Homo sapiens: one gene and its partners. The protein of the gene in region 7 purifies or fractionates together with the protein of the main gene of each other region. This does not show direct contact. Each region holds a gene or a part of one and is shown on either strand. Other genes may lie near its edges.

Region 1 (4,505 bases), on a different chromosome or scaffold from region 7:
TACAAATGATCCTGTCACCCAGATAGTGAGCACAGCACCCAATAGTTTTTCCACCCTTGCCCCCTTTCCGTCTTCCCTCCTCTAGTCATCCTCAGTGTCTGTCATTGCCATCTTTATGTCCATGAGTACCCAAAATTTAGCTCCCACTTATAAGTGAGAAAATGCAGTATTTGGTTTTCAAGGACAGTGTTTGAAAGCTGTTTGTATAAATTCTAGCAAAATAGGAAGTAAAAGTACCTGTCAAGCAGGACAAGAATGTGGTCAAAATACAGAAATGCAAGTTGCATTTTCAGAGTAATATCTCTCTGTGGATAAAACTATGCAAACCATTAAAATTGACACTTGAGTAAACACAGAGTATAGCTATGAAAAACATTTTTACCTTTGCTAAAAATGGGTCACATAAATCATTACCATTATCAAACATTTAGTGGATCCTAATGCTGTAAAATGGAGAAGGTGGAGAGTTTCACACTGATTATTGTAACATATAAGTATTTGAAAAGAGCCATTCTGTTAAAAGGGGAATCCAGAGTTATTTATTTTGCTATTTAGCCTCCCTATCTATGCATTAGCCATGTACAGGGAGAATTTATGGAACTTCTGGAAAAATTGATACATGATAATTACCTGTGCCTAATTTAGTACAGGCATGAATATGAGCAAGACAGCCAAACTATTTCATAATTGAAGAGTATCTCTTAGGAAATGAAAATTTAATTTTCTTCTGCTGCCACATTCAGTTTCTCAGTGGACAGGACCTAGAGGCCACATTTTCTAGTGAATATGGTTGAATTAGAATGTATAATATTTAGTAAGCATTCATTTAGAATTCTGTTAATATACTCCTAAATAAATTTGCATCCTCATAGAATTGGAGCATTTGGAAGCACTGCACTTAATTCATGGATTTAATAAGAGAAGCATTAACACTGTACTGAATTTCTCATTTTATCAAAAAGAATTCTTCATAAAATGCAAGAAAAAATACAAAATTAATTGTGAAAGGTCATTAGATGAGGGCCAACATAGACTAAATGTTTTATAACTTTAGGCCTGATTTACATAGTAATTTAAATTTAATCATTCATGTTCAAAAGTAAATTGTTCTTTGGAATTAAGGTACATTGTTTATATATTTAGTATATAAATGTCAATTATCATACATAAAAAAAAAACGCTTGGTAGGTATTCATTAACTACCTCTCCTTAAGAATAGACTTATAATGGAATATTTCTACATATATGTATTGTCACAGAAAGTTATGCATGCTAAATATCTTAGCCAAAAGGATTTGGGTTATGATTGCCTTGACTTTTGTATATAGACAAGAAAATATGTGGCTATATATAGCCATATGCAGAAAATTGAAACTGGATCCCTTCCTTACACCTTATACAAAAGTTAACTCAAGATGGATTAAAGACTTAAATGTAAAACCAAAAACTATAAAAACCCTAGAAGAAAACCTAGGCAATACCATTCAGGACACAGACACAGGCAAAGATTACATGAGAAAAACATCAAAAGCGATTGCAACAAAAGCAAAACTTAACAAATGGGATTTAATTAAATTAAAGAGCTTCTGCGCAGCAATGAAACTATCATCAGAGTGAACAGAAAACCTACAGAAAGGGAGGAAATTCTTCCAATCTATCCATCTGACAAAGGTCTAATATCCAGAATCTATAAGAAAATTTACAAGGAGTAAACAATCACATTAAAAAGTAGGCAAATGGCATGAACAACATGACTCAAAAGAAGACATGTATGCAGCCAACAAACATGAAAAACAGCTCAACATCACTGAACATTAGAGAAATTCAAATCAAAACCACAGTGAGATACCATCTCATGCCAGTCAGAATGGCAATTATTAAAAAGTCAAGAAACAACACATGCTGGCAAGGCTGTGGAGAAAAAGGAACTTTTTTACACTGTTGGTGGAAATGTAAATTAGTTCAACCATTGTGGAAGACAGTGACTCCTCAAAGATCTAGAACCAGAAATACCATTTGACCCAGCAATCCCATTACCGGGTATATACCCAAAGGATTACAAATCATTCTATTATAAAGATACATGCACACATATGTTCATTGCAGCACTATTCACAATAGCAAAGACATGGAATCAACCCAAAATGCCATGCCCATCAAGGACAGACCAGATAAAAAAAAAATGTTGTACATATACACCATGGAATACTATGCAGCCATAAAAAGGAATGAGATCATGCCCTTTGCAGGGACATGGATGGAGCTGGGAGCTATTATCTTCAGCAAACTGACACAGGAACAGAAAACCAAACAGTGCATGTTCTCACTTATAAGTGGGAGCTGAACAATTAGAACACATGGACACAGGGAGGGGAACAACACACATTGGGGCCTGTCAGGGGGTTGCGGGGAGGGAGAGTATCAGGATAAATAGCTAACGCATGCAAGGCTTAATACCTAGGTGATGAGTTGATAGGTGCAGCAAACTACCATGGCACACGTTTACCTATGTAACAAACCTGCACATTCTGCACATATATACCAGACCTTAAAATAAAATAAAATATAAAAAATAGAAAATATATGGCTATATATTTATAGTTATATATTATGAATATATAACATGACATGCTATATAATAAATTATGACATAACATAATATTCCATATTATGAATATATTATAAAACAATTTTCCAGGCAAAAACTCCATAGTTCCAAATAGATCTCCTTCACTTACATAACAAACTATCAGCTAAGTTTTTAGAAACATTGATATTTACATAAAATGTAATCCTTAAATGATAATTCCTAAAATTAGAATAAATATGAATGGGTTAATCAGTTATTAATAATTCATCTTTAATACTAATAACTCATTTATCACCTTAATGCTCACAGTAATTAATCATACTTGAACAATTTTCTTAATATGGAATGTGTTTTAACTGTACTTTCACGTACATACATACGTATATATTTAATCTGTTTTTATTGATATGTCTTGTTTTCTAGACTAAAATTTACATAGTATGCTAATAAACATGTTCTACGTGTTTACTGGCCTAGTTTTCCTACTAGGTTTTAAGGTATTCAAGGATAGAATAAACATTTTCAGTTCAGTTTCATTTTGTAAACACTTACTGTGTTCTTTCTACAGGAAGGAAAACTGGCTCTACCCTAGAACTTACAGAAAGAAAACTAGCCCTACAAAAAGATAATGTTATTATGGGATGGTAACAAGTAATAACAGAAAGGTGTATAAGTGAAGCAAAAATGAGGGTAACTTGCTCCAGGTAGTTCCATGGGAGGCTTCAGAGAAGAACTGGTTCTAGAGGTGTACCCTGAAGGCTAAGCAACACTATCTTGGGAAAGAAATATGAGGAGGGCAGTTTAGGCCAATGCAAGAACATAAGTGGAGATTCAGAGACATGAAAAGAGCATGATGTACGTGGCATAATCACAAGTACATGGACAGAACATGCTACAACATGCTTGATGTGGTGAGTGGCCAGAAATGGGGTTGAGAAGGGGATGGCATTCAGGACATCAAAGGCATTGTGTGCATCTTATTCTTTTAGCCACAGGGAGAATTTTGAGCAGAGTTGCATCTTCCTGCTAATTTATGGTTGCATCTCAGCACCTAGCACAGTGACTTGCTTGCAGTTCTTCTAGCAATGTCAGAGATTGTTTCCTCTCCAGTCATAATCAATCTTAAGTGTTAATAAAATACAGAAGACTGTCAATGCAAATGATATTCAGACAAAACAGATAGATAAATTTTCTAAAACAAAGACAAGAACACTGAATTATATCTGAAACTAGGTCTCGATGAATAGCACCGAATGAACCAATAAGTGAGCATGTGTCTACGGGAAGGACCACATGAGTATGAAAGAAATGACTATGAAAGAATACTAAAAAGAAGAAAATCAAAGAAGAAGGAGAAGGAGAAAGAGAAGGAGAAGAACAAGAATAAGAAGAGAGTGGCACAAGAATTATAATTCGAAAGCAGTTCGAAGAGTTTTTCTGGGTCAGATTTTCATTGATAGCCCATCGTCCATGCTGTGGGACGGGTGACACAGGAACCTCATACCTGGGCAGGTATACTTCTACTTTTTGCTTCTTCACAGAGTTTGCCCATTCTTCAACCAGCTGTGCTTTGACTAATGGCTCCAGAGTAGCAAGAGGAACTTCCTGTCTGGACAGCACCAGCATCATGCTTATTTCATCTCCTTCATATGGTATTTCTAGGACTTGGTAGATACCACCAGCTTCATTGGAGCCATCACTAAATTCCCCTAAAAAGAAAATAAAGGCCATAAAAGATGCCTATCAAAGCTTAAAAAAAGCTGGGGGCGAGAGATGAAAGACTACATATTTGGTATAGTGTACACTGCTCAGGTACTTGTGCAACAAAATCTCACAAATCACCACTAAAGAAGTTTTTCATGTAACCAAAAACACTTGTTCCCCAAAAGTATTGAAATAAAATCTAAAAAAAAAT
Region 2 (4,505 bases), on a different chromosome or scaffold from region 7:
GCCCACTTGAAACACTAAGGTTGAAACATGAAAGGTTGTACCCAGGGCACAAGAAACAGCAGACATCCTGGTGCCATAAGGACATTTATCTTTTCTAGAATCCACTCTCTGAACCTGGATGTTTGCATTGATAAGACGTTATGTTTTCTCCCCTTTCAAATGGCACTTTGGAGATAAGTGATAGTCGTATCCAGCGAAGATCAGTCAGAGCTCTGGAGTCACACGGCCTATGAGCACTGAATCTGAACTCCACTAGTACCAGCTGTGTGGCCTCAGACAAATTTGTGCCTCAATTTTCTCATCCATAAAATGAAGATATTATTAGCCTCCCTTATAGGATGGCTCTAAAGAGTTAACTAACTGCTGCAATACTTACAACTCTGTTTGGCACATAATAAATCTGCAGCAAATGTTAGATGTTGTTATTTCATTATTACCGCCACTGCCTAATATTGTGTAGTCACTCCAGATTCCAGATTTAGGTTGCACATGATTATTAACATTATATATAGGAAATAGTTTAAATAAGTTTATACAGATACTCAGATCATGATCTAGAAAAAAAAATGTCATGAGTTATAATAGCACATAGCATTTCACTTAAAAGTGAGTGCAATTTAAAAGATAACAAGTCAGTTTCAGTGGCGGCATGGACCCACAGGGATTTGGCTGCCCTGCTGGGGGCTAAGGGGACTGTGCAGGGAAAAAAAAAGAAATAAAAGATAACATATGAGGTGGTTTTGAAATATTCCATGGTTAACTCTAACACTGCAACTACTGAACTACTGTTCCAAAAGCAAAGGACAGGGCTTTACCAGTAGAATTCACACTTGCCAATTTTTTTTTTTGTTAACATTCATCTACAAAATACTGTCTTCACTTAGCATAATGTATTAAATCTTGAAATTTCCTGCTTTGGTCAGAAGTCAGTCTGGAAGCGTTCTCTGAGCCAATCCCTCATCAGACCTGTTGAAGGTCTGTGAGGTAGGACAGGAAGAGGTCTGTACAGGGTATTTTAGCTGATGTCTAAGGAACTATAGCCCAGCACTAACCTAAAAGGTCAAGGCTAACTTTCAGGTCTCACCTCAACATAAACGTGTCCATTCTCTGGCACAGAGAAGACGCCCTGGGAGGGCACCAAAAAGAGGTCAGTGTTGTATAGCTCCATGTTGAAGGTGATGTTTCCGTGGGGCTGTTCCTGGAAGCTGCTGGGGTTCCTCACCTGCTGAAGGCTGCAATTAAACTGGAAATAACAACCCACAGGAAGATTAATGACAGTCATATGAAGGATGAAGGCCCTGTAGCTTCATGAGCTTTGGCTTTTAACATCTGATTTTATTTTCAGATAGTCCCTAACTAAAGCCAACAAAATAGACAGCATTTTCCACAAACCCCCTACTGATAACAAACACATACCACCACGATTTCAGGTCGGGTGAACAGGGAAGCATCTCCTTCATCCATATCTCCCGGAAATCCATTATCACCTGACTCCAGATCTTCATAACCATCTGGCCAACCACTACTGTCCCCAAGGGCTGGAACCTGTATCACAATCTAAAAGGCAAAGAAAGCACAGCCAATGTTATAAAAACACCAAACCATGTGTGTTTGGTTCTGCCTCACACAAACACTCATGTAATCATTCTGATGCAAATTGAAAATCTGACTTTAAGACAAAATAATAAAATAACATCCAGGCTTTTTCGAATTATATCTTCAAAGTGATGAAGAATAAGGAGAAACCCAATGCAGGTTCAAGTTAAAAGCTAAACTAATATTTGTATCTTCTCTTGTGAAAAATAAATATTTATGTTGTAACCATATTGAATAATTACAAATGATTTCAAATGGTGGGAAAACACTAGATACTAGAATGGAGTTGAATGGAGTTGTCAAGAGACTTGCCTATACCGTGAGAAGGGGCTTCCCCTTAAGAGTCTTTATATTATAAACTCTAAGAACTACTAGCAGTTGGCGAATACAAGAAGCTTTGGTTATATATATCCTTTAAGAGTTGTAGAAAGTTTGGTTGGAGTCAGCAGCGAAGGACCTAATGTTTGGTTATATATATCCTTTAAGAGTTGTAGAAAGTTTGGTTGGAGTCAGCAGCGAAGGACCTAATGTTTACTATGGAGCACATCTCTTCATTGCCGCTCTTGTACCCCTCTAACTTTTGCTCATTTCTTCCCTAAGAAATCTTTCTCTATGGTGTATGGATGTGGAAAAGAATACGTTTTATTCCAGGAATCTTTTTTTTCCACCTTTTTCGCTATCCACCTGCAGATATATTCCCGGAATCTATCTTGACATAGGTTGAAATTATGATTCCTGGATTATTTCTAAATAGGATGAGAAAATTCACCCAAGGGTCATGACGCCATAAATGAAATCCTAATTTCTTTTGCTTCACATGCTTGGATTCTGAACATGATGCAAAATAGAAATATATAGTAAGTCTGAAAATTACTACAAACAATTATAATTGGTGAGAACAGCTAAAACAGTCTCCAAAGGGAGTAGGATGGGAAGAAAATTAAAAAAAAAAAACAAACTGCCTTTCTCTCTGTACCAGGTCCTCCAAAGAAAGTACTGACGCCAATTAAAGGAAGCATCTAGGATATTGCTAAACTCAAAGATCATAATAAAGAAAAGAAAAATATGTGAGAAAAAAAGGAACTTTAAGGGATCATTACATGCCTTTCTCTCCTGAAGCAACTGACTTTTTTTTTTTTTTATTTTTTCTTAACAGACATATTACTGTAGCCACTTTTGGTGTTAACTTGGACCCCAGTTTTAAAATGCCATAATCAAGTATTTCAGTAATATATGACATTCATTATATCTGTAGACACTGGATAACTGAACGAAAATTCATGCTGCAATTATCAGGAGGTCAAAGGTTAATAAATTAATTATTTGAGTAACAAAAGGAGATTAGCAGGGCCTAGCCTGGTGTCTAGGAAAGATTAGTGGACAAGAGGTCAGGAAGTTGGATTCAGTCGTCCTGGCTCTGCCATTAGCCCATCCCTGGAGTTTAAAAAAGCAAGTCTTTTTAACTTCTTGGAGTTCAGTTTCCTCACCTGTGAAATGAAGAAGCTGAATAAGCTCATCTTAGGGTTATTTGCTGCTCCAACAGTCTAATATTCTCTGAGGAACAATATGCTTGGGTTCATGGGAGAGTCACTTCCCACAGGAACCACGCTGACCAGAGCACCTGATTGCTAGCCTCTCTTCTCTGGATGGGGTCGAACTAGCAGCCACAGCTCAGCCACCCCATGTCAAAGCTGGATATGGCACTAAGAAGACACCCCCCCTCCCACCCCAACCCACCCTGTGTCAAAGGTGGACACAGGGATCTCTGAGCCTTATTTTTACCATTAAAAGTAAAACCCAAAATGCAAAATCAGCACTTTAAAGTTCTTTTGGAACTTCACATTTTAAATTCTTTTAATATTCACTGCCTAGTCTCTGCACCCAAGAGAATGGGTTTAATCTGAAAAGATTTTGACCAACTGAGAAGAAAGATTTCTGGAAAATGCAGCTTAGCTATTGCAACGGTTTATCATTGGGGGAAATCTGTGGAATCTTTCTCCAAGTAACTTCAAAAGTAGGAGAGTTTCTTCAATGTATGGTCTTTCTTAGAGGTGGAGAGAGACTTAATAATTCCTTAAAGGTCCTTTTTGAGTTTTAAATTCTCTTTTTGGATTTTTATTCATGAAGGAGGGAGAAGTTCTCCTACTTCTGGACGAGACTCAAATGAGGCCAGAGAGACCACACATCTGGTTAACCCGGCTGTGCAGAGGTGCTGCTCGTTCATATAGCCCAGGGCCTTAAAATTTTATCCTTATAAGGGCCAGTTGAGCTTGGGCACTGAGAGAAGTCATAATCACCTTGACAGTGCAGCCTTTGTCATCAGGAGACGGAAACGGGGGGTGAGAAAACAGGCCTTCCAATTCCCAAAGACTCACCAATAAAACAAATAAAACCAAAGAGCTCAGGGTCAAAGTACATCCATTTTGTTGAGAACTGACACTTGGCTTTCTTCAGGCCTGGGGTGAAAACCCTCTTCATCTTCAAAGAAATGTTAAGACTAACTTTAAGGGAGCACACAGCCAGGCTCTGGCAAAGGGCAAAGCTTTGTTCTGGAAAACACTCACGGAGTTATAGTAGACCACACCATCAAGGGCTGACCACCGGGGCCGAGTACCGCAGCCATTCAGAGGAGACTCCAAAACAAAGTGTGTGCCATTCATCTTGGCCTTGCAGGTAGGATCCAACAGGGTGACGTCCATCCCCGAGTAGCCACTGGCCTAAAACAACAACCACCAAAGACATGGTTGGAGGCCCACAGGCAGTTCTGTTGTATAATTGACACAATTGACAATTGCCTGGTCTTCCAAGGACAGGCGATGAGAGGCCTGCATCGTGCCCCTTCCCCAAGTATCTCTTCCCAGCTGCCCACCTCTCAACAGCTCAAGGGTAGTATCTGTTGGCCTTGGAAA
Region 3 (4,505 bases), on a different chromosome or scaffold from region 7:
TTCACTATTAGCCTTCAAAAAAACTGAATTAAGAAAATATTTAGAAAGGTCATTCATCATATGAGACAGCAGACTCCCCAACTATGAATTCCAGGCTGCTGAAACTCTACCACACCAAAAAAAGGGTGGGGGCTGGTATTGTTCTTTAGGAAGGAAGCTCTGTATAAGGGAGGTCTTACTGAAGAATCTGACTAGCTTTTATCATGGAAGAATTGTTATGAGTGGACAGATTTTCCCCATACGAAATTCTGAATCATAAATCTCATATTTTTTTTTGGTAAATCATACTCTCTCTGGGAGTACAGCAAGAAGAAGCATGTATAAACAAGCATTCTTAGGGAGTTCATGCAAATAAGACCAGATCCTGTATATTCCTTTGTATAAACATCACCTAGAGAATTTTCCCTGCCATTATAGGAGAAGTCCAAAGGGAGGGCTTTAGGAGGCAATGGATGAACCTGGAGACATACTCCAGGTATTCCCTGTTGTATGGATGTGTCATGAAGGAAACCAGTCCTGCAGTACTGAAATCTGATTTTAATATTCACATAGATAATATCTTGAATATCAAGAGTAGCTGAACAGCCCTAGCCTTTTCTACACTGAGAAAATGCTAATTACAAGTAGCCAAGTTTTAAATTTAATTTTCCCCTTTCAAGTGCAAAGCACAGAAAGAAAACTCTTCAGCAGAGGCAGAGCCAACTGCTGACATCAGACTTAAGGGGTTATACTCAGTCCCAGCTTCATGGCATCCAGCCCATCTGTCTTTGAAAACCTATTAATCATCAGCTCAGCAAGTACTCACTAAGCTCTATTACCACTTGGCTACCCATTACATTAGCTACTGGGAATTTTTAAAGAGTTTGGCTATATTTGCTCCTAAAGCTATTTTTAAGGGATAAAACACAAAATATGTACATAAATCCCACTATTCAACAATTTGTTTTAAAAAAGTATGTGCATATGTGTATAAATTTATTAAGTTTAATGCTGTCACTCTTACTACTCTCTTGCATTCCAAAATGGTGTCTTGAGTAGAAACATGAAAGTAAAGGGCAGCGGGTGCTATGGTAAGTTCCACACAAGCCCAAGTGGCTCAGAGGGTTTTTTCTTGTCAAGCCATGTGAACATCTTCTGGAGAAAAAGCTGTGAATCACTGAACTGACGAACATATCGCAGTATGTCCCTGCTTGCAAATTTTATATATTGCAGTATGTCCCTGCTTGCAAATTTTATATTGAATCAAGACTTAAATAGTTTGACCTAGTTAATTTTTTGCAAGATTGTTTCTGACAGAGACATAGTAGTTACTCATGGCACTTGATGGAACTGTGATCTGTTCTGGAACCCCAGCCCCACTTCACTCCCTGGAGCCACATGCCCTTCTTACCCATGCACATGGTCTGGTCCTGAGAAGCCTTAAAGCCATTGTGGCAGATGCACTGGTAACTTCCTTGCAGATCAACACACAAGCCATGACTGCAAACGTTAGGAATTTCTAAACATTCATTGCGATCTAAAACAGAAAAAAATAAATGTTACATGTATCTGATTTTTATTAAGATTTCTTCATTTTTCACAGTTGTGTTTCTCTAATCTGCTATTAATTATTATAGGCAGGCTGAAAATGAACCATAACAACAGCTGAATCAAAATGAGCAGGACTTCAAAGTATCCAACCCTCTTTTTTTAATCATGCAAATTTTTTTATGTTTATTGGTATCTGAAGGATATTATTTTATTTTAGGTCCAATCCTGGGGAAATCCATTGAAGAGATCTATTTTCTTAACAAAATCATCTAAAAGATATGGTGAAATAGGTTCACTATAAATGAACAGGTTAAGTGAGAAAATCTTTCCCAAATTATTCTTGAAGTATTTTTTGATAGGAAATCTAAGGAATCTTGTGCTCAGTGCCAAAGAATGAGTCAGCCTCTTTCTTACCTACACAGGCCCCATTGGGTGAAAGTTTGAAACCCGCGGCACATTCACAGCGGTAACTACCAGGACTATTGATGCAGTCTGCATTCCGCTGGCAGAGATTATCACCATTGCTGCACTCATCTATATCTGAAAGAGCAACAATTCCATTTTAAAGAGTCCTTTTTAGTATTGTATTAGCATTACATTCACGTCACACTTTGATGATCAACTCTTGAAAAATTGTAGAAGAAATAGTAAAAATCAGAAACCATCTAAATGCTATATATGTATACCAAATTATACTGGATAAAGGACATACTTTATTCAGATTACCTTCACAAACCAACAGCAGGTCATTGTAACTGAATCCTGTAGGGCATTCACAGCGGAAACTGCCAATCTGGTTAATGCACACACCATTTGCACAAATGCCTGGAATCTCTTTACATTCATCAATGTCTGAAATGGAACAGATTTGGTCAAATATATGTTGTTCTGTTTAATATACTTACCATATAACTTTGAATAATGCTACATGTACCCTGGGATGAGTACAAATATTCAGTGTCACAAAAATCTATTATATACTAGTATAGCTAATTTTTTTGGTTTATAAAAACATATATACCAGAAAATAGAAACAGTGATGGAAAAAATCTAAGTAGCTGATAAAATATACCAAGTAATTTCAGAGTCAATATAGCAAATGAACTTTCTAGGCAATCAAACCCCTTCTTCAGGTTACCCTAAGTGCTGCTATTCATTTGTTTAAAAAGCTATGTTTTCATCATTGTATGTATTTTATTTTATCATATATTCATAATGGAGACTTAAAATTATATTGCTTAGGCCAGGTGTGGTGGCTCACGCCTGTAATCCCAGCACTTTGGGAGGCTGAGGAGGGTGGATCACCTGAGGTCAGGAGTTCTAGACCAGCCTGACCAACATGGTGAAACTTCCATCTCTACTAAAAATACAAAAAATTAGCCGGGTGTGGTGGTGGGTGCCTGTAATCCCAGCTACTCAGGAGGCTGAGGCAGGAGAATCACTTGAACCTAGGAGACAGAGGTTACAGTGAGCTGAGATCGCGCCATTGCACTCCAGCCTGGGCAACAAGAGCAAAACTCCATCTCAAAAAAAAAAATTATATTGCTTATCAAATCTTTGAGGAAGGAAGCTAGAGTGAGCAACACAATGTACATTTAGAAGGAATTAATTAATATGAAAAATAAGTCTGCACATTCATATTTAGACCAGTAAAAAGGGATACTGCAAAAATACACCAAAAATTAAAAAATGTACTTAAGAAAATAGCAACTAAAGGTTAAAATAAGGTAGATTATTTAGAGTCATGTAATACAATGTGCATGACAAGGACAACTGAAGCTTTAGCTTGGTGGATGTGACAAATATCGAGAGAGTCACATAACTACCATAACCCAATCACCAGACTACGCTGATGGAGTATCATTATTAATACTTGGTTAGAGTCTGTAAGCCTGTTATTTCTCTCTTATCTAACTATATTAGATTGGATCCCAGATTATTATATTTTGTGGTACTCTTGAATTTTAAAAACATAGAATAGATTTTTACAGAATGCTACACATATGTATTAAAACAAACATAATCTGGAAAAACTCACCAACAGCTTTTCCTGTGTGAATGTCAAAGGTGAATCCAGGAATATTTCCACATATGGTTTTAAAGTCAGCTTTAAAATATAAACAAAGCAATGCACTCTTAAATTTCTCAAATTCCTTCAAAATAACATTTTGTATTACTTTCACAAACAAATATATTTTACATTATTCACAACCAGACATTTTGATTTCAATTATATTTATTTGATAGCAATGCCAGCTTCTGCTAGGAGTGGATCTAGGCATTCTTTACCATTATTATCATTGTTATTTCTATTACTCTCATTAACTTTTTACTGCTCTGATATCAGAAGGCAAGTAAATCATTATAAGATTCAAAATGTCCATTTAGATATTTAAATACTTTTTCTTTTAATATGCAGAGCTTTAAAAAACATCCAATACATAAAGATTAAAAAAAAAGAGAAGTACAAATTGAAAAAGGAATTACAGATTGCACAAAGGTATAGACATGCAAAAATAATGTTGTAGAGGGGAAATAGGTAAACAATGTATAATGAATGAGATGCGAATTTTGTCTTTTTTTTTTTTACTGTGTCTATTGGAATGTGAAATTTGAGTCATCAAAAACAATGCATTATGAAATAAAATAGGGACTATAAGAAGTATTCTTACACATAATTAACCAAATCAATGGAAATTTAAAAGAATTCTAATTTGCAAGATGAAAAATGCTTCTGACGCTCACTGCTATACAAGTGAGTAAAACTCCTGAAAACAGTATTATATAAAACTTAAACTGCATACTATATTCCAAGTGCTATCAGGTCAGGGATATTGTATATTTCATCCATCAATATATACCGAGTATTGAGAACAGATAGAAAGACCACAGATGCTCAACTTAATGGTTTCTAATTGTCTGGAAATCTTCAAATTATAATTTATATGTATAATCTCCCTAATTGTCATTGCACC
Region 4 (4,505 bases), on a different chromosome or scaffold from region 7:
AGGATTTCCTTAGAGCCACATCACAGCTGCACTATCTTTGTATAACTCTAAAACGGTGAGGCTATCATGTTTTACTTTTGAATATGTCCTAAAGATGTTCTACATTTGGAATTTCAAACTGATTGTTTGGAATGCCTTATTTACATACTTGAATGCACCACTTGCCTGTTCTGATGTATAATTTGCATAATTAGTAGACTATCTGTGATCTGACTTTAAACACCAAAGAGATTTTATAGTGTCTCAGCTACTGTCCTTCCTAGAGGCAGGACAAGGACTGGAAGACCTCCCAAGATCCCTTCCTGTCCAAAACATCCATATATGAGGTTGGCCTAGATAATAAAGAGTAGGTTTAAAGTTAATACCATTTCATCAGAAGCTCAGGAATTTATACAGCTCTATCCCACCTCCATACTCAGTGCCTCCCTATCACCATATTAATCTCAAAGCAAAATAAAAACATGGTTCTATTTAAGAAGAAAATTTTTATTTCTGCAAAGCTGAAAAATGTAAAGAGCACTATTACTTTACCTTCCCTGGATTATCAGACAAGGCCTGAGGCTCAACTTATAAAAATAAATTGTTTTCTGCATCTGGATGCTGATGAGACATCATGACTCAAGCTATTCCCATGCTCAGATTCCCAAGCACTCTGAGCCCTCTCTCATCAGTCACGAGGAGAGGAGAAAGTGCTGGACTACGAGCACAAAGGCCTGGCTCTGACACAACTGCTGTGTGACACTGAGCAAGTCCTGCCCTCTCTGAGTTTGTTTCTCCATCTGAGATGAATAGGGGGAGGTCTGTATTTCTGCATGGGTAGGAGGTATTATTGGAACAGACGGTCTCTATGGATTTTTCAGCTTGGGGTTTCTCGATTATTTTTAAAGCTGGACATGCCATCTGGCTCTGTCCATGCTCGGGGAAGGGGATCTCAGGATAGAGGCCTTGATTGGCTGATTCAGCAATTCTACTCAGCCTCATCACTAAATGAACTCACCAGGTTTCACCTCCACAGTGGTCCGGTCTGTGTCACTCTCACCCTTTGCATCGGTCACTTTCAGGTGAAAAGTGTAGGTTCCCTCAACCAGGTTTGAAAGAAAAAGGATAGGGTGATGGTCAGAGTGATTTAACACCTCCTGTAGGGTTGAACAACATGGCTATGTTACAGAACAAAATGCCATTCCTTTCCTGGAGTCAGTTGCTGCTTTCACCATAACTAGGCCCTTCAGGGCTGAACTGTTTCAACCTTGGGCAGTTCCTGATACGGAACAGCATTGCAGCCTACAACTGCTAGGATCAGGGAAGGGAAACCCATTCTGTGCTATACTAGCTTACAGAATGACCCTAAGCAAGTCACTTCACCTCCCTGGATTTCAGAGAACAATCTGGGTTTGATATAAGGGACCACTTGATTAAAGCATATACTGGAACGCGTGGCTCCTCCTCCTCCCCACTCCTGTGTAGCTCTCCAGCTCCTAGCACACTTACCCCTGCTGCTGGGCTCCCCTCATCTCGAGTCCAGAGGTAGCTGACTATTCCCTTGTCATCTGAGGACTTAGAGCCATCCAGCTCTGCTGTGCTCGTGGGTAGGGTAATCACCACATTCCCAGTTATCTTGGCTATAGGTGGTTTGTTTATTTCTAATCAAAAAGAAATCATTGACATAATGTGACATTCTGGAAAAGAAGAAATGTTTCTTCATGATGCTTATGGGGAAATTAAAACATCAAGAGTACCTTAACTGGAGAACCTTTTTAAGTGCCTGTCCCTGCCACCAACCAACAGTGTAGATGAAAGCTACCAGCGCTGCAGTCCTGAGGTTCCAGTCCTACCCAGAGAAATGTTCTCCTAACACTGTACAACAGAGGGGACGAGTGTGCTTTCCTCTCATATTCTCCCAGCAGCCTTCCCAAATGGAATCCATTTCTCTGCTTTGGAGGTATGTGATGATCAGAAATAACGGCCCAAACTGGCTTAAAACCTTGGAGTTTAGGTTTCACCTAGCTGATCTTGCAAATTCTCCTTCAAAATATCTTAAAATGTTATTCTCTGAATATCTTTTTGGACCCCTTCCTTGGAACTTCACAAGAGAAAACAAAGAGCTACCTCTCTTATTCGGAGCCCCACGTGAAGCTCTGTATATTCAGATGTCTGTGCAGTATTTACTCAGCTTGGTATCTTATGTCTGGAGGTCTGCATATCTGATGGTTTTTCCTGCTATCAACTTAAGGCCCTCAACTTAAGGCCCTCTCCCACAGCTCTCACTGGTCACTGTGCCTGTAAACTAGAGCAAGGCCTCTGGCTGGCCTCAGCTCAAAGGCTCAGGGCAAGCATAGTCAGCTGTAGTGCGGCCGTCATTCTCAAGCCTGACAGCAGGTGTCACTGTAGCTAACAGGAGTCACGGCCCAGGTCTCAGCAATGCAGAGGGGCAAAATAAAAATGCAAAGAATAGAACCCTTAATTCTTTCCCTATTCAACTGAGAAATAAAGTAAGGAGGGAAGGAGGGAGGACTGAAAAGAAAGTAAGGGGATGAGAGGGAAGGGAAGATGTAAGCAGGAGGAGGGAGGGAAGTTAAAATTCACCTTACAGTCCAATTAAAGGCTGTTTTAGAAAAGAAAATAACAATTGCCCTCACCCCAACCCTCTTACCCACCTCTTGCTATCTCTAATCAATTTCTGCAGGCAAACATGACAGGATAAATTCTTCAGCTATCTGACCCTAAGAGGCTGCTACACAAACTGGAGGCAGAGAGGTACCTTCTTTGACAATGACATTCACAGAGCTCTGGCTTTGCAGGTTCCTCTCATCTTTGACAGTCAAGGTGAACACATAGGTCCCCACTTGCAGCCCAGTCACAGTAGCAACACTGCTGTTAGCATTCTCGAGCTGCACCCCATCAGGTCCCCTGCAAAAAAAGAAACTAGAGGGTAGAGTTGTACCTGTCTGCTGCTGTCCTGTCCCTAACTTAGCAGGAGGAGACAATGACTCCCTCAGCAAAGACACGAACTACTGTTACCCAGACCTTGACAAGACATGTTTAAAAATATTTCAATTGGACAAAGTGTCATTTGGCCTCAAAATACAGGCTGCCTGCTGGTCAGAAAATTCAAATAGCTTTCAAACACCTCTAGCCTTATCCTTTATATGAGCTTCTAGAACACTTGAACGCTTTACCATTCTAGTTTGTAAAAGGAAGAAAGTTCTCTGAGCAAGTCTCTGATCAAAAGAATGATTTAAGAGTGATGTTTCTAAAAAGCATTTCTGGCCCAGTAGTTGGTTTGGCTCTTGCCAGCAAGGAAGCAAAATGCATTTCTTAATCACGTGCCCAAATCCTTCCTGATGAAAGAAAAGGAAATGGGGCAAGACTGCAGAGGAACTCTCAGGACAAAATCATCTTGTTTGTAGCAACTCTATAAGCAAAGTTCCCTCCAGCTCCTGGACAGGGGCCATCAAGCACCTAGGACACCCTACAACCCTTCTTCCCCCTTGTGGCCTCAGAGACTTGCCTGCAGCAGCCAAGGGAGCTCTGTGCCAACATTCAGGCTGCACACAGCCAGAGAGCCCTCTGCTCAAGGATCAAAATGCCCCAGAGCTTTTAACTACAGGAAAGCCAGAGAAATCTGCAGACATCCAGGATTTACTTTGTTTTGCCTTTTAAAGTTACAGCCTCTGATCCTGGTAGCTCCTCCTGAAGCACAGTCTCCTTCAAGAAGCTATGCTAAGCATTATCTCTGCTGTAAACACTAATAAAACTCAGCTAAAAGGTCTATCAGCCATATCTTCAATAAACAATTATAATTAAAAACACCCTGGGCTGGGTAAGATTATGTTCTACAAAAGATAAAAACAAGAGCTGAGGGAAATAATTTCTAGATTCCAACTCAGCAATCTCAAAAGCAAGTCATTTGTATAGTCAAATTAAAGTTCTTTTCCACCCATCTCCAATGCCTTTGTCAAACAAACAAACAAACAAACAAACAAACAAACACAATACAAAAAAAAACCCAGGCTGTCCTATGGTTGCTACCTTTGGAAACAGAGAATACTTTTAACTCTTCTTAGAATTCTTTTGCTACTTGTGGGATCCTGCATATAATTTCAGTTGCATTAGTTATGCTTTAAAGGAGCTAAAAGAAACTACAGGAACTAAGAATGGTTCAGTTAGGTAATTTCTATGTAATTAGAATTATTTTGATTACCGCCTTTGGCCTCTGGCTAACTTAATTGGTAAATGGTGTCTTCAAGAAAACAATAACAGAGTAATGCTTTCATTTTATGGATGTATTTTCAATTTCTCTTAATAGCTGCTCTGCCCCATCCCCCGTGCCAGCCTTACCCAGTTAATTCTGAGCAACAGTATTTTTCTGCTCCATTACCCCTTCCATCCTGCCTCTCAAGTGTAATTAAACTCTGCATTTCAGCAGATGGATTGTACCTGAAAAAGCACCAGGATCACACAGTACTACCTGGGGACTAGTTGATGGCAAGCATTCTTTTTTTCTT
Region 5 (4,505 bases), on a different chromosome or scaffold from region 7:
CCGAGGAAAAGATTTTAATACGAAAGATACATAGATGTTAAGCTGTTGGTACTGACCAAGAGTGATTACAAGTGCATTCAGAGCAGAACCAGTGGGGCAGTAGCAGTCTCAGACTCAGGACAACATATTAACAGTGTGCATATCCATCCAGTAGATCCATGTTGTCTGTATGCCTAAATCACAAGGTCTTAATTAACCGTGTAAACGAGATTTACGTAGTCTCTGTCTAACATCTTAGCACCTAGATGTTTTGAAACCGCTCAGTCTTGCATAAAGCAGTGGAACTAAATGTGTTCTTTAAAATTCCTTGTTGCTGTGAGAACCCAAAAGAGCCAGCATAATTAGCTTTAGTGTTTAGTCAAAGGCTAATGGGAAGAAATGGATTATGATTTTCCATCAGATTAGTTCAGGCAGATATATTCCTTTGTAAACCAAAAGAAAAAAAAAAGAAATTATGATGCTGTTCTAAAAACTGTGCTGTAAATATTTGGCTTTAGAGAGGCAAGAGTGGTTGCCCATTGTAAATAGGGCACTGGACTTTAACTTTACGTATTTGGATTCAGTTTCAGGCACCACTGTGGACATTTTGTTATCAACCAGTAGATCTTTGCCTTAGTTTTTTTCTTTACCATTGTGTTTTCTTTTCTTTCTTTTTGGAGACAGAGTCTGGCTCTGTTGCCCAGGCTGGAGTGCAGTGGGGTGATCTCAGCTCACTCCAACCTCTGCCTCCTGGGTTCAAGCAATTCTCCTGCCTCAGCCTCCCAAGTAGCTGGGATTACAGGCACGTGCCACCACACCCAGCTAATTTTTGTATTTTTAGTAGAGACGGGGTTTCACCATGTTGGCCAGGCTGGTCACGAACTTGACCTCAAGTGATCGACCTGCCTGGCCTCTCAAAGTGCTGGGATTACAGGTATGAGCCACCATGCCTGACCTGTTCCTGTATTTTCTAATTCTCTTTATACTTAGGTTCTCTATCACACCTGAATGCACCAACACTTATAGTTAAAATTTAGAAAGTGCACTCAAGTCTAACATGTTGGAAGACTGGATTGTAATTTGAGTCAACCTGTTATTTTGTACTTGGTTCAAAGTCAGTCAATACTATTTTTTATATCTATGGCACATTTATGTTACTAGTACTGCAGTAGATTTTTAACAACTTCGTGTCTTAGGGGAGATACTCTGTTAATTTCAAATAGGTCATTGTACAGAATGCTTCACAAAAAATGTTAAATGCTTTCCACTACTGATTTGATGGATGATGAATCTTTGATGTAAAACTTCAAAATAGAATTAAGATCTTCCTCCCTTCACCTCTGTTAAAATTTTGTAAATTAACCCTGGGATTTCTCTGAGATTTATGATACATACATAGTGTATATTTATTTTCATGAGTTTGATCTTAAAATTGTACTCAGGTTGTCCTTAGCTTTAAAAAGCAGTGTTAGAATAATGAAGCACAAAAGTTAAAATAGCAGCATGGAAGTTTTAGAAAAATAGTCCATTTACTTTTTTTTTTAATCAGAAATCATTTTTAGCTTCCCTTCTCCCCCGCTCCGCCCCCCCCTCAACCTCTCCCATTTTCTCAATTAGCCTGTGCTGTCCTTTAGGATTAGAACCTTAATCCAATTTGGAGGATGACTTTTTTTTTCGTTTTTCTGAAATTAAGGGGAGACCTGAGTAATAGGGGCTGGGGCTAAAGACAGTCAGGTTGTCAGAGGGGACTCCTTTCTTCTCAGGCTGGAATCCTCACCAACCTAAGTGGGGGTTAGGGGTATGTGCAGACTGGCAGCCTTAGATTTGTCATGTAAGGCTTTAGGACCCTGCACCTGTGGGGTCACAGTTTTCTTCTCTCAGTTCTAAAACAAGACTTTAGTATTTTATTCCAGACCTATTTGTGTAATCATGAATTTAAAGAACATTTTCATATTGATGGCTAGTAGTTAAAATTCACATTTATTATACTTTATGCTAGCCTTAGGCATATAGCCTATAATTTATATTAACTATTGACAGTTTATACCCTTTTGGTAAAGATCAGATGTGAGAATAATCTGCCTTGGCAGGTTAAAACAAAACACTTTTATTTTGACACTTAACTTTCCAGTTTATTTTTATGGGTAGTTCTGGGGTGGAAAATAATATTTACAAAATAATAAAAGCCATGATTTGGAGACCTGACCCAAGAAGCTTCAACATCCTTAGGTTGCTTGCCTGTGCCACTGTGCCGTGACACATTCCCTACTGAACATAGGCTAGTGTGGGATTGCTCCACCCAGAGGCCCTTCCCCAGAGCAGGGAGGACATGGAGTGTTTGTGAAGGTTTTTCTCTCCTTAACAAGTAGGTTAGTTTTCAACAGTTTAAGTACTGGAGTAGGTGCTGACTGTTAATATACAAAAGCAAAAAAATACATATATACAGTAATGGGTAGTTAATTATGTTCAGCTTCATTTTCTGTAAGCTGTTGATAGTTTCTCCTAGAATATTCTGTCTTCCTCTTATCAAGGCAACTGGGATTCATATAAAGGAGCTTCTTATGTATATGGGACTTAGAAACTAGTTAAAAGTGTGAAAAGAGGTTTTAAAAAATATTTTCAAACAAATGCATCTATCTGTACTTCTTAGGTGAGCTAATGAACTAAACCATCTTGAAAAATTTATCTTAGTATTACACAAAATGCATTTGTATGAGATCTGAATTGGTTGGAATTCATTGAAGAACTTACATATTTGAATCAGATTATTTCATAAGCTGTGGTGGTACAAATTTTTCATTGAAGAGAATTTTAAGCATGTGTCCGAAGGTCAGAGGGGAGGAATGCCTGCAGATCCGTGTGAGGGATGAGGGCTGAATACACAGGGTAGATCAGAATTGCACTGGAACCTGGTTATACCTCCTAACCCAGTCAAGCACCTGTGGTCTTTTAAATTTCTTTCTTTATAATCTTGTGTATGTTGGTCAAAGAAGGGTTTGATTAGTCAAAATAGGAACAGCCACTGTGGGCTCCAGAGATACTGTGAAACGAGTGGCAAAACAACCTCCCCGCCAAGTAGACGAAAATAATAAACAAGATACCTGTTTGGTAGTTTAGGGAAGAGATTCCCTCTTTGAGGAAATAAGTCTTGACTTTTCCCTCAGTATTCTTAGCCTAGTTCCTTGCTTGGTGTTCAGTGATTGAACTATATCTTATCCCCACCCCCAACCTCTCAATCTGTTAAAAGGCCCTTTACACAAACTCTGCAAATTATGCCATGATAACTTTAAATCTCAGATTTTAAAACTAAGTGTATGCTCCGAGTCGTAAGGTATTGCATCTGAATGAGATCTGAGAGGTAGCTCATTCATTTTACAGTAGAGGCAACCAAGACACAAAGATCATTCTGGAAATCACATCACCAGCTAGTGGCAGAGTTGAGTTGCAGAGGGAAGCCCCAGTCTTCTGTGAGTGTTGCGCATTGTCTCCCACATGGTTTGTCTCCTAAATAAAACCCCAAAGAATTGTATAAATTATCCGTGCTTACTATTTGCAGACCCTAATAGAGAGTACAGAAAACATACAATTCTGCATTATTATAAATTTGACCTTATACTAAGTTGGTGGTTTTTCTTTTTTTTTTTTTCAGCCAACGATGGATCAAAGTAGTTTTTAAGTCAATTATAGTAATTTTTAAAAATCTTACCAGTGGCATGGTTTAGAAATCTTCTTCTTTGTAAAGACACCCGGGGAAAGCTTGATAGGACATCTTGTTTTCTTTATAAAGATCTCTCCAAGAAGCACAGGCATTTGTAATCATTCAGTTAAACATTCTTTATGAGGAAAAGTGGGGAAGAAGAAGGAAGGGAGAGAAGAAGAGAGTGAGTTACTGTATATACAAAGGGTGAAAGGGGATCACCCAGAGAAGGGACATGTGATGACTAGAAGGGCTGCTTTAAAATTATAAATGTGTGTGCTCTTCTGATATTGCACCATGGATAATAGAAGAATGACAGCTAACCTAAAGGATGATTGTTTTAAAAGTAGACATGTAAAAATCACACCAATCTATGGGCAATTCTCTCCACCCAAGTAGGTTCTGGCGATTCTCTTTTGGGATGCACTTACCTGTCTCTGATCCATCCATTTGAAGCAATGTAGTGGTTAGAAGGGTGGATCTGGACTCAGATAACGTGGGTCTGAATCTGGCCTCTACCATTCTCTTGCTTTGTGACCGTCTGCAAATTACTTAATCTCTCAGAACTTTAGTTTCCTCATTTGTAAAATGAGGTTAATAGTACCCACTTTGTTGGATCCTGAGGCTTAAATGTGATAGTAAAGCACTTAGAATGGTATCAGACATGAAGTGGGCACACAACAAATGCTGCTTGTGATTATTGCTGTTACTGGTCACCACCTAAAGCCATCAAGCCAAGATTGCATTGATCCATATGCTGTTTAATAACTCAGGAAAGTGGATAATGAAGTTTCAAAAGGGTATCAAAAATAGTTAAAATTGAGTTTTA
Region 6 (4,505 bases), on a different chromosome or scaffold from region 7:
ACAGAGATATAAGCAAAGTTCTGTAGGAGCCCATCGGAGAGGACCCGCAAAGGAGAGAGGTCCCAATCTTGCCTCTATTTGGAGGAACAAATATAAACTGGAGGCATAGAGTTTCAAAATTCTGGTAAAGGAGCCAGAAAGCAGTTAATGCTGAATTGAGAAGCATTGGATTAAATTACATTGAATTTATTTGAATTGACTGATTAACTTATTTTACAGATAAATAAGTAAAAGCTTTGAACAGGTTAGTGTACAATTTCATCACCATGACAGATATTTTCATGAGTTTCACATCATTTTCTGAAAAATAATAACCTATGCTACACCATTATCTCAACCACTCAAAGCCTTCTTTTCAGTGCCTCTAAGCCTAGGACATTTCTGTTTTAATAATTTCAGTAGTAGACAGTCTTAACATTTTGACAGAGTTGGATTGTTTTAGAAACAGTTGGAAGTCTTTGGTTCAATTCTGTAAATATTTATTGAGTACTTACCACATACTAGGAACTAAGTAAATGGATACATAAAGGATATAAAGTTGAAGAAGAAATGTCCATTCTACTCCCTAAAAAGTCAAGAATGCAGAGGCATCTTCAAGTAACTATAATGCATTATAAATAAAGTATTGCATAGTGAGTCTACTCAGCAAGTTGACTTATCTGATTGCTTCATGGGAATCACAGCAGAGAGTCTCATTAAAAACCAAATCTTCCATTCTTGCCAGCACTCCAGTTTACAGGGTTGCTTTTGGATGGGTGAAGCCAAGTCACAAGCATACCTGTGATTTGAGAGAAAATAAATTATATTTATTGAGCACATGCTATGTGCCCAACACAGTGCTCCTTTTATAGCCTTAATGTGCAGAGATCTTAGGAAATAGGTATGATTTTCTCTGTTTTGTAGTCCCTGAAGAGCAATCTCAAGGATTTTATATAACTTGTCCAAGTACACAAAGCTATTATGTAGTAGACACCTCATTTAAGTCCAGATCTGGCTGACTCCAAAGCCACCTGCATTGCCATTCACTTCTTCACATAAAGCAGAAAGGGAACAAATCTAAGTGCTGTGGCCTTTTGTTGTTTATTTATGGACTTTTCGTTCACTTGATTTTATTATGTTTTCATTAGAATCCACTTCATTAAATCTTTCGAAGCCCCTTTAGAATATAGTATAAAACCAATTTTAAAAATACAGGGGGCTGGGCATGGTGGCTCACACCCATAATCTCAGCACTTTGGGAGGCTGAGGAGGGAGGATCATGTGAGCCCAGGAGGTTGAGGCTGCAGTGAAACATAATTGCACCATTGCAGTACAGCCTGGGAAACAGAGCCAGACACTATCTCAAGAAAAAAAAAAAAAAAAAGAATACAGGATGAGACTGTTTAAGTCAGAACATTCCCCCGCCCCCCGCCAAAAAAAAAAAAGAGGAAAAAAAGTTTTAAATTTCAAAATGAAAAGTATTTATCCTTCTGAAGGTAGAGGGCCTGGAAAAATTCAAACAACACCTCTGTCCACCCAGGCCTCAAGGAAACCACTTTCATCCCAGTCCCACTGCCAGAGATCACCATGGGCCCACTTTCTCCCCGCTTAGAGTGCAGTCTCAAGGGTGACTCAGATTTTCAAACCACAAGGAACCTGTAAGACCACAGCCTTGAATGCTGTATGGCAAAGGCATGAGAAGCAGAGGGAGAAAAGGAGAGCAAGGTAACTAAGTTCTCTTTAAAAATAGTGACTACAGCTGGGCGCGGTGGCTCACGTCCGTAATCCCAGCACTTTGGGAGGCCAAGGCGGGTGGATCACGAGGTCAGGAGATTGAGACCATCCTGGTTAACACGGTGAAACCCCGTCTCTACTAAAAACTACAAAAAATTAGCCGGGCATGGTGGCGGGCACCTTTGGTCCCAGCTACTTGGGAGACTGAGGCAGGAGAATGGCATGAACCCAGTAGGTGGAGCTTGCAGTGAGCCGAGATCGCACCACTGCACTCCAGCCTGGGCGACAATGGGAGACTCCATCTCCAAAAAAAAAAAAAAAAAATTATGTCTACAGTGAGATACCATCTCACACCAGTGAGAATGGCTATTATTAAAAAGTCAAAAAATAACAGCTGCTGGCAAGGTTGTGGAGAAAAAGGAACACTTATATACTGTTGGCAGAAATGTAAATTAATTCAGCCATTGTGGAAAACAGTGTGGCGATTCCTAAAGACCTAAAAATAGAGCTACCATTCAACCCAGCAATCCCATGACTGAGCATATAGTCAAAGGAATCTCAATCATTCTATCATAAAGACACAGGCATGCATATGTTCATTGTAGCACCATTCATAATGGCAAAGACATGGAATCAACCTAAATGCCCATCAATTCTAGACTGGATAAAGAAAATGTGGTACATATAAACCATGAAATACCATGCAGCCACAAAAAAAGAATTGAGCTGATGCCCTTGGCAGGAACATGGATGGAGCTGGAGGCCATTATCCTTAGCAAACTAACACAGGAACAGAAAAACACATACTGCATGTTTCTCACCTATAAGTGGGAGCCAAATGATGAGAACACATGGACACAGAGAGGGGAACAACACACACTGGGGCCTAGCAGAGGGCGGAGGGTGGGAGGAGGGAGAGGACCAGGAAAAATCACTAATGGACATTAAGCTTAATTCCTGGGTGCTGAAATAGTCCGTACAACAAACCCCTCGTGACATGAGTTTACCCGGTTTGTTATACGGTAACACATAATACACTGTTGGTGGGGAGTGTAACCCTCATATACCCCTGAACTTAAGATAAAAGTTAAAAAACAAAACAAAAAACAAAAAAAACCAGGGATGCTGCCCAAGGAGGACTGCCTGAAGGTGTTGCCTCAGCATCTGGGGAGAGGCAGCCCCTTGGTGAGTATATGGAGAGGCAGCTTAACCTACCCTTGGGTTATCAACTACCCATGATATGTGCTTTACTTGACACAATTTTTTTTGTTTTTCTGAGATGGAGTTTCGCTCTTGTTGCCCAGGCTGGAGCGCAATGGCACGATTTTGGCTCACTGCAACCTCCACCTCCCGAGTTCAAGTGATTCTCCTGCCTCAGCCTCCCAAGTAGCTGGGATTACAGGCGCCTGCTACCACGCCCAGCTAATTTTTTATACTTTTAGTAGAGACGGGGTTTCATCATGTTTGGCAGGCTGGTCTCAAACTCCTGACCTCATGTGATCCACCCACCTCGGCCTCCCAAAGTGCTGGGATTACATGCATGAGCCACTGCGCTCGGCCGACACAAAATAATTTAGTTTTCATGTTTTTCTGTCTGTAGTCCAACTGAACCCTTATTACCTAATGGGGAAGAAAATCAAAAAATAAGCCCCATGCATGGAAATCCATGTATATGCAACAAATGTCCTCCTTGTCCTGCCACGGGACAGAGGACCTAGGCTTGATACTTGGTCTCTTTATTGCCATTTTGAGGCCTGTAGAAATAAGGCTAAAAGCTGTTTGCTAAGTTATCTGTTGGTTGATTGATTGATTGGCTGATTGATTGAATGATTTCCAACTAGGCCAATAGCATAGAGGAAAGGCTTAAAAAAAATCATGGATCTGGCCAGGCGTGGTGGCTCATACCTGTAATCCCAGCACTTTGGGAGGCTGAGGCGGGTGGATCACCTGAGGTCGGGAGTTGGAGACCAGCCTGACCAATATGGAGAAACCTGGTCTCTACTAAAATTACAAAATAAGCCAGGCGTGGTGGTGCATGCCTGTAATCCCAGCTTCTCGGGAGGCTGAAGCAGGAGAATCGCTTGAACCCAGGAGGCGGGGGTTGCAGTGAGCCAAGGCTGCGTTCATGGCACTCCAGCCTGGGCGACAAGAGTGAAACTCCGTCTCAAAAAAAAAAAAAAAAAATTCATGTATCTACTTCTGTTTGTCAATGAAGACCTAGCACGTGAAAAGATTGACTCAGAATAATTCCTGATTTTATGATAGCCTATTGAAACTCAAATATACGTATGATGTCTAAACATTTTCATTTACAAATTACTCTAGTCAAAGCTGGGCTTTTTCTAATTGTTAGCTTTGGAACAAAAAGGAACAGATTTACTAATTGTTTCTCTGTGCTGTGGAACTTTGCCAATCTGTATTTATTCTTGACATGTGCACATATGTGTGTTGTGCCTATATCAAAATGAGCTATTAAAAATAGTTTTGGAAGAAGTTCATTTTTAACCACTGAAAAAAGGACCATAAATATGTGGTCATTAAAGTCCTTATGATGGATGGATATGGTTAAATTAGAAAAACTTACCCCAGGGCAAGGAATTTTCTGTCACCAGTCCTTTCCTGGAAATGGTAAGTTTCATCCTTTTGACCCTGCTCTAGAAAGCAACCCACAGCGAGATGGACATAGACTAAAGGCCTGTACTCACAGAACTTCACAGCCAAGAGACTTCATTCAATACCTGTCAGAGTGTAACCATGGACTACCCAAATCACCTGAGCTGCATGTAGATATT
Region 7 (4,505 bases):
TGCAGACTTCTAGGAGCAGGCCCTGCTCCCTCGGACACAGCCCCTACCAGATTCAATCCCCCCATCACCTGGCCCAGGAGCCTGTGGCCAGCACTCAACTGCACACCCTACCCAGCGGCCTTGCCCTGCCAATGGTGAACCAGCCAAAAGTAAAAAGGTGGTGCTGTCATGGAAAAAACTGCTCTGTGTTTAACCTTGGGAGCCCCAGTCCAGGACCTCAAGGCACAGTGAGAGGCCCACTGTGGGAATCCACACCCACGCGCAGCCCCAACAGAGGGAAAAGCAAGCAAACCAAACGCCCAAAAGACAGGATGGCAACTTCCCCGGGTTCCTCCCTGCCAAGGGTATCCATGATGAGGGGCCAGAATACGGAGGGGCAGGTGGGGTGTCTGCTGCACCCAGTGACGGACCGGCGAAGGCTTCTGCCGATAGCACATGCCGTCTGCCCGCCCTGAATCCTGGGGATGCACCATGGCCTGGCACTGTGGCACTCTCAGTTTAACTACCTCACGCCCACTCAATACGGCTCACAACAAAAGCAACAGCCCATCCCACACCCACAGGTGTTGGCCCTTTTGACAGTTTCCTGATGTCATTCTTCTGGTGGTGATCTCGTAATTCGACAGTGTAAATTTAAGCTGATATGTCTTGGTTTGTCACATTTACCCATTATCAACTCACTGCATGAAAGATTCTCCTCACTCCTGCCTTACTGGGATAGGATACTTGTAACTCCAATTTTAGTTTCCTAATTGGCCATATTTGTGACTTGATCTAATATCACACACAGAAACACACCCCAGACGGCCACTTAAAATGTGTTCAAAATGCTTGTTCTGGAGTCTGTCTCTATATTTCTAAATAATATGCCAACGCCATAATCTCTTGATTCATCTATCTAGACATCGGCTGACTTTCTATTATGACAATGTGGATTTTAGTGTCCTTCCACCCTTTCTCTCCCCATCCTCCCAATAGTTACAGGCCCAGAGTTTAAAAAAAATTATATCCATACTCTAGGTTTTCATTATTAGCCTGTGAAAATATTGTTCACTATTATATTTCCTTTCTTTGTATATGTCTTTGTTTTTCCTGCTGTGAATTTTCATTGACTGGGGTTTCTTTTTAACTTGTACCCAAATCTTTACATACAATCTGAGAGCTCTGCAATACTCTTCTCAATCTTCTACATGTAACATCTGTTAAATAACTTATTTCATGTTCTTCCTGAGGGCCACAGTCCTGGAGCCGCCTGTCCTTTCTCATAGCAGTTGTCTGGAACTTCCTTCACCATTGCCCTGGGATTTTCCTTAATCTCCTTCTGCGTTAAAACTCCTATTTCCTGGATCATTTTCTTCATCTTTCTTGGTTTACACTTCATTGTGGTGGAACACATACTTTTTAAAAATTTTTTTCTAACCACAAAGACCCAGAAGAGATGAACATATACTTTCTGAGAAGAATATTTTTTGATACTTTGCATGTTTCTGAAAATACCTTAATTCTACACTCACACATTTATGGAACTTTGGCTGGGTATAGAACTATAGGTTTCAAATAATTTTCACTTAGAATTTTGAGGGCTCAAGCTGGGTGCAGTGGCTCACGCCTATAATCCCAGCACTTTGGGAGGCCGAGGCAGGTGGATCATCTGAGGTCGGGAGTTCGAGACCAGCCCAGCCAACATGGTGATACCCTGTCTCTACTAACAATACAAAAATTAGCCAGGCGCGGTGGCACGTGCATGTAATCCCAGCTACTTGGGAGGCCGAGGCAGGAGAATCGCTTGAATTCAGGAGGCAGAGGTTGCAGTGAGCTGAGATTGCGCCACTGAACTCCGGCCTGGGTGACAGGGTAAAACTCTGTCTCAAAAACAAAAAAAAAAGAAAGAATTTTGAGGGTTCCACTGTTTTTTAGCTTCTAATTTGCTTTTGAGAAATATGATAATGTTATAAACTCATTATCTTTTACTTATGACTTCATTGTCTTTCTTTGAAAGCCTTGAGAATGTGCTTTGAATTGGGTCTTTTTGTTTTCTTGAGACAGGGTCTTGCTGTGTTGCCCAGGCTGGAGTGCAGTGGTCTGATCATAGCTCACTGTAATCTTGAACTCCTGAGCTCAGGCAATCCTCCCACATCAGCCTCCTGAGTAGGTAGGACTATAGCTGTACACCACCGTGTCCAGTTAATTTTTTTCTAATTTTTTGTAGAGGCAAGGTCTTACTATGTTGCCCAGGCTTATCTCGAACTCCTGGCTTCAAGCTATCCTTCCATCTCAGCCTCCCAAAGTGATTTTCCTGTCTTATTTTTTAGATTATGTCTCCCTTTCATTTCCTCTGGTCTACCATTCCTTAATCCTTATTATATTTATCCTCTATTTATCCTTTCTCTGTATTATCCATCTCATTATTTTTAACCTTTCAATTGAGTTTTTCATTTTTGGTATCAAAATTTTAATTTCTAAGAGCTTTCTGTTTCTTTGAATTTTCCTCTTTCATGGCATCTTGTATTTGTTCCATGAATGCAAAACCTTCTCATCTTTATATTTCCATTGAGTATCTTTTCTCTGTTTTTGACTTTTTCTTCCATGTTGAAGACTTTCCTCAAATGCTGGGGGATCCTTGGTGGTTATTTTTATTTAGAAACAAGCTCCTGGCGGCTGTTTGGAAGCTCTGTGTGCATGCCTTGCCACAACTGGCTTCACTGGCGGGGACACAAGTGAGTGGCTAAACAGATTTTTTTTCTGGGCACTCCCAATGGTTAGACTATATACATCTTCCTGTGGATGGTTCCATTGCTCCAGAGAATAATTTTCTAATCTCCTGGCTGGAGTGATTTAAACCCAGCCACTAGCATTCAGGAACACGTAGGAGAAGAGACTCATTCCCCTTCTTTTCACCTCTCTCTACAGCCTTCCTCTGTACCTGGGGTTCTCAAGCCCACATATTCTTTGATTCAATCTCTCCAGACTATTTTTCCCATCCACTGTGGGAGTCTGCTGGGGCCTTTGTCTTTTTGCTTGGGGCCAAGGTGGAGATTTGGGTATTTCTAACAATGTCCTTTCTTGTCTCACCTCTGTCTTCTAGAATACTTGAGCCCAATCTTTTCTGAGCCTGGCAGAGAAGAGACCATTACCAAAGAAATACTGAAAGGATGTTTCCAAGAGCTGAAGAGAGTTGTAAATCTTCCAATTCAAAGGGCTCAGTGAATGGTGAGAAAGACAAATGAAACAGCACATATAGCCAAACAGATTGTATTGTGATGACATTTCAGAAGATCACGGATAAGAATGGATCCTCTACGCCTCTAGCTGTCATCTTTTCTCTCCCGTATTTTGCGTTTCTTCAGCGTTTGGTTCTACTTTGGGAATTTCTTTGACTTGCTCTTGCAAACCTTCCATTAAATTTAAAAAGCAGCTTCATTGAGGTATTATTGCATAAAATAAAGTGTATATATTTAAGTGTACAATTTTGGGCATCCATATGCACCCATGAAACCATCCACAGCTAAGATGATGCCCGTGTCCGTCTCCTTCAAAATCTCCTCCTGGCCCCTCCCACATGTTCCTCCCTGAATCCATTTCCTGTCCCCAAGAAACCACTCATCTGCTTCAGGCTGCTTTTCCCAGAGCTTTATGTAAATGGAATTCTGCAGTATGCACTCTTCCATCTGGCTTCTTTCACTCCGCACGATTCCTCTGAGACTCACGCAGGTTCCTGTGTGCCCAGCAGTGCATACCTTTTGGTTGTTGCTGCATTTATCCCATCGTTTGGACACACAACATGTGTTTACCTGTTCACCTATTGATGGACATTTGGGGTGTCTCCAATTTCAGGCCATTACAAACAGAGCTGCTAGAAACACTCCCGTAGCTGTCTTTGTACTGGCATATCAGCAATGAAAAACTGGAAACTAAAACTAAAAGACACCATTTACAATAGCTTCAAAAATATGAAATACTTAGAGGTAAATCTGACAAAAAATGCACAAAACCTGTACACTGAAAGATGTAAAATACTGCTGGGAGAAATTCTAAAAGACCTAAATTAGTTGAGCAATATACGCTGTTCATGGATTAGATGATTCAATATTAAGGTGTCTATTCTCAAAATTAGCTATAGATGCAATGCAATCTTTTTTTTTTTTTTTTTTTAAGATACAGGGTCTTGCTATGTTGCCCAGGCTGGTCTTGAATTCTTGGCTCAAGCAATCCTCCTGCATCAGCCTCCTGAGTAGCTGGGACTACAGGGTGCACCACTGCACCCAGCTGCAACTAGACATTTTTATGTTATCTTTGGAACTTCGCCTTTCAGGCTGGGTTTTCTTTAGACATCTGGTGGCCTCTGGTAGTCTAATCATATTTAAGAATGAGAAAACACAGATTTCGGCTACACTCTGAACAGACCATGTATGTGTATATATGTATAAGAAATGTAGGCCGGGTGTGGTGGCTCACGCCTGTAATCCCAGCACTTTGGGAGGCCGAGGCAGGCAGATCACCTGAGG

The links.
Region 1: the proteins of ST14 (region 7) and SERPINI1 purify together in Homo sapiens (affinity purification with mass spectrometry; one large-scale study listed by BioGRID and IntAct). This does not show direct contact.
Region 2: the proteins of ST14 (region 7) and TGFBR3 purify together in Homo sapiens (affinity purification with mass spectrometry; one large-scale study listed by BioGRID and IntAct). This does not show direct contact.
Region 3: the proteins of ST14 (region 7) and FBN2 purify together in Homo sapiens (affinity purification with mass spectrometry; one large-scale study listed by BioGRID and IntAct). This does not show direct contact.
Region 4: the proteins of ST14 (region 7) and KIAA0319L purify together in Homo sapiens (affinity purification with mass spectrometry; one large-scale study listed by BioGRID and IntAct). This does not show direct contact.
Region 5: the proteins of ST14 (region 7) and MAN1A1 purify together in Homo sapiens (affinity purification with mass spectrometry; one large-scale study listed by BioGRID and IntAct). This does not show direct contact.
Region 6: the proteins of ST14 (region 7) and SLIT2 purify together in Homo sapiens (affinity purification with mass spectrometry; one large-scale study listed by BioGRID and IntAct). This does not show direct contact.

Annotation. Positions count from the first base shown.
Region 1 is NC_000003.12:167,794,414-167,798,918, reverse strand, and holds part of SERPINI1 (neuroserpin precursor), read right to left. Parts: intron 4,300-4,505; coding exon 4,095-4,299; intron 1-4,094. UniProt on the Homo sapiens protein: Serine protease inhibitor that inhibits plasminogen activators and plasmin but not thrombin. May be involved in the formation or reorganization of synaptic connections as well as for synaptic plasticity in the adult nervous system.
Region 2 is NC_000001.11:91,715,152-91,719,656, forward strand, and holds part of TGFBR3 (transforming growth factor beta receptor type 3 isoform a precursor), read right to left. Parts: intron 4,314-4,505; coding exon 4,161-4,313; intron 1,558-4,160; coding exon 1,417-1,557; intron 1,244-1,416; coding exon 1,085-1,243; intron 1-1,084. UniProt on the Homo sapiens protein: Cell surface receptor that regulates diverse cellular processes including cell proliferation, differentiation, migration, and apoptosis.
Region 3 is NC_000005.10:128,303,567-128,308,071, forward strand, and holds part of FBN2 (fibrillin-2 precursor), read right to left. Parts: intron 3,638-4,505; coding exon 3,569-3,637; intron 2,383-3,568; coding exon 2,257-2,382; intron 2,071-2,256; coding exon 1,945-2,070; intron 1,517-1,944; coding exon 1,391-1,516; intron 1-1,390.
Region 4 is NC_000001.11:35,448,870-35,453,374, forward strand, and holds part of KIAA0319L (dyslexia-associated protein KIAA0319-like protein), read right to left. Parts: intron 2,923-4,505; coding exon of another isoform or gene 2,908-2,922; coding exon 2,759-2,907; intron 1,641-2,758; coding exon 1,489-1,640; intron 1,137-1,488; coding exon 998-1,136; intron 1-997.
Region 5 is NC_000006.12:119,342,257-119,346,761, reverse strand, and holds part of MAN1A1 (mannosyl-oligosaccharide 1,2-alpha-mannosidase IA), read left to right. Parts: intron 1-4,505. UniProt on the Homo sapiens protein: Involved in the maturation of Asn-linked oligosaccharides. Progressively trim alpha-1,2-linked mannose residues from Man(9)GlcNAc(2) to produce Man(5)GlcNAc(2).
Region 6 is NC_000004.12:20,610,900-20,615,404, forward strand, and holds part of SLIT2 (slit homolog 2 protein isoform 1 precursor), read left to right. Parts: intron 1-4,505. UniProt on the Homo sapiens protein: Thought to act as molecular guidance cue in cellular migration, and function appears to be mediated by interaction with roundabout homolog receptors.
Region 7 is NC_000011.10:130,183,190-130,187,694, reverse strand, and holds part of ST14 (suppressor of tumorigenicity 14 protein), read right to left. Parts: intron 1-4,505. UniProt on the Homo sapiens protein: Exhibits trypsin-like activity as defined by cleavage of synthetic substrates with Arg or Lys as the P1 site. Involved in the terminal differentiation of keratinocytes through prostasin (PRSS8) activation and filaggrin (FLG) processing.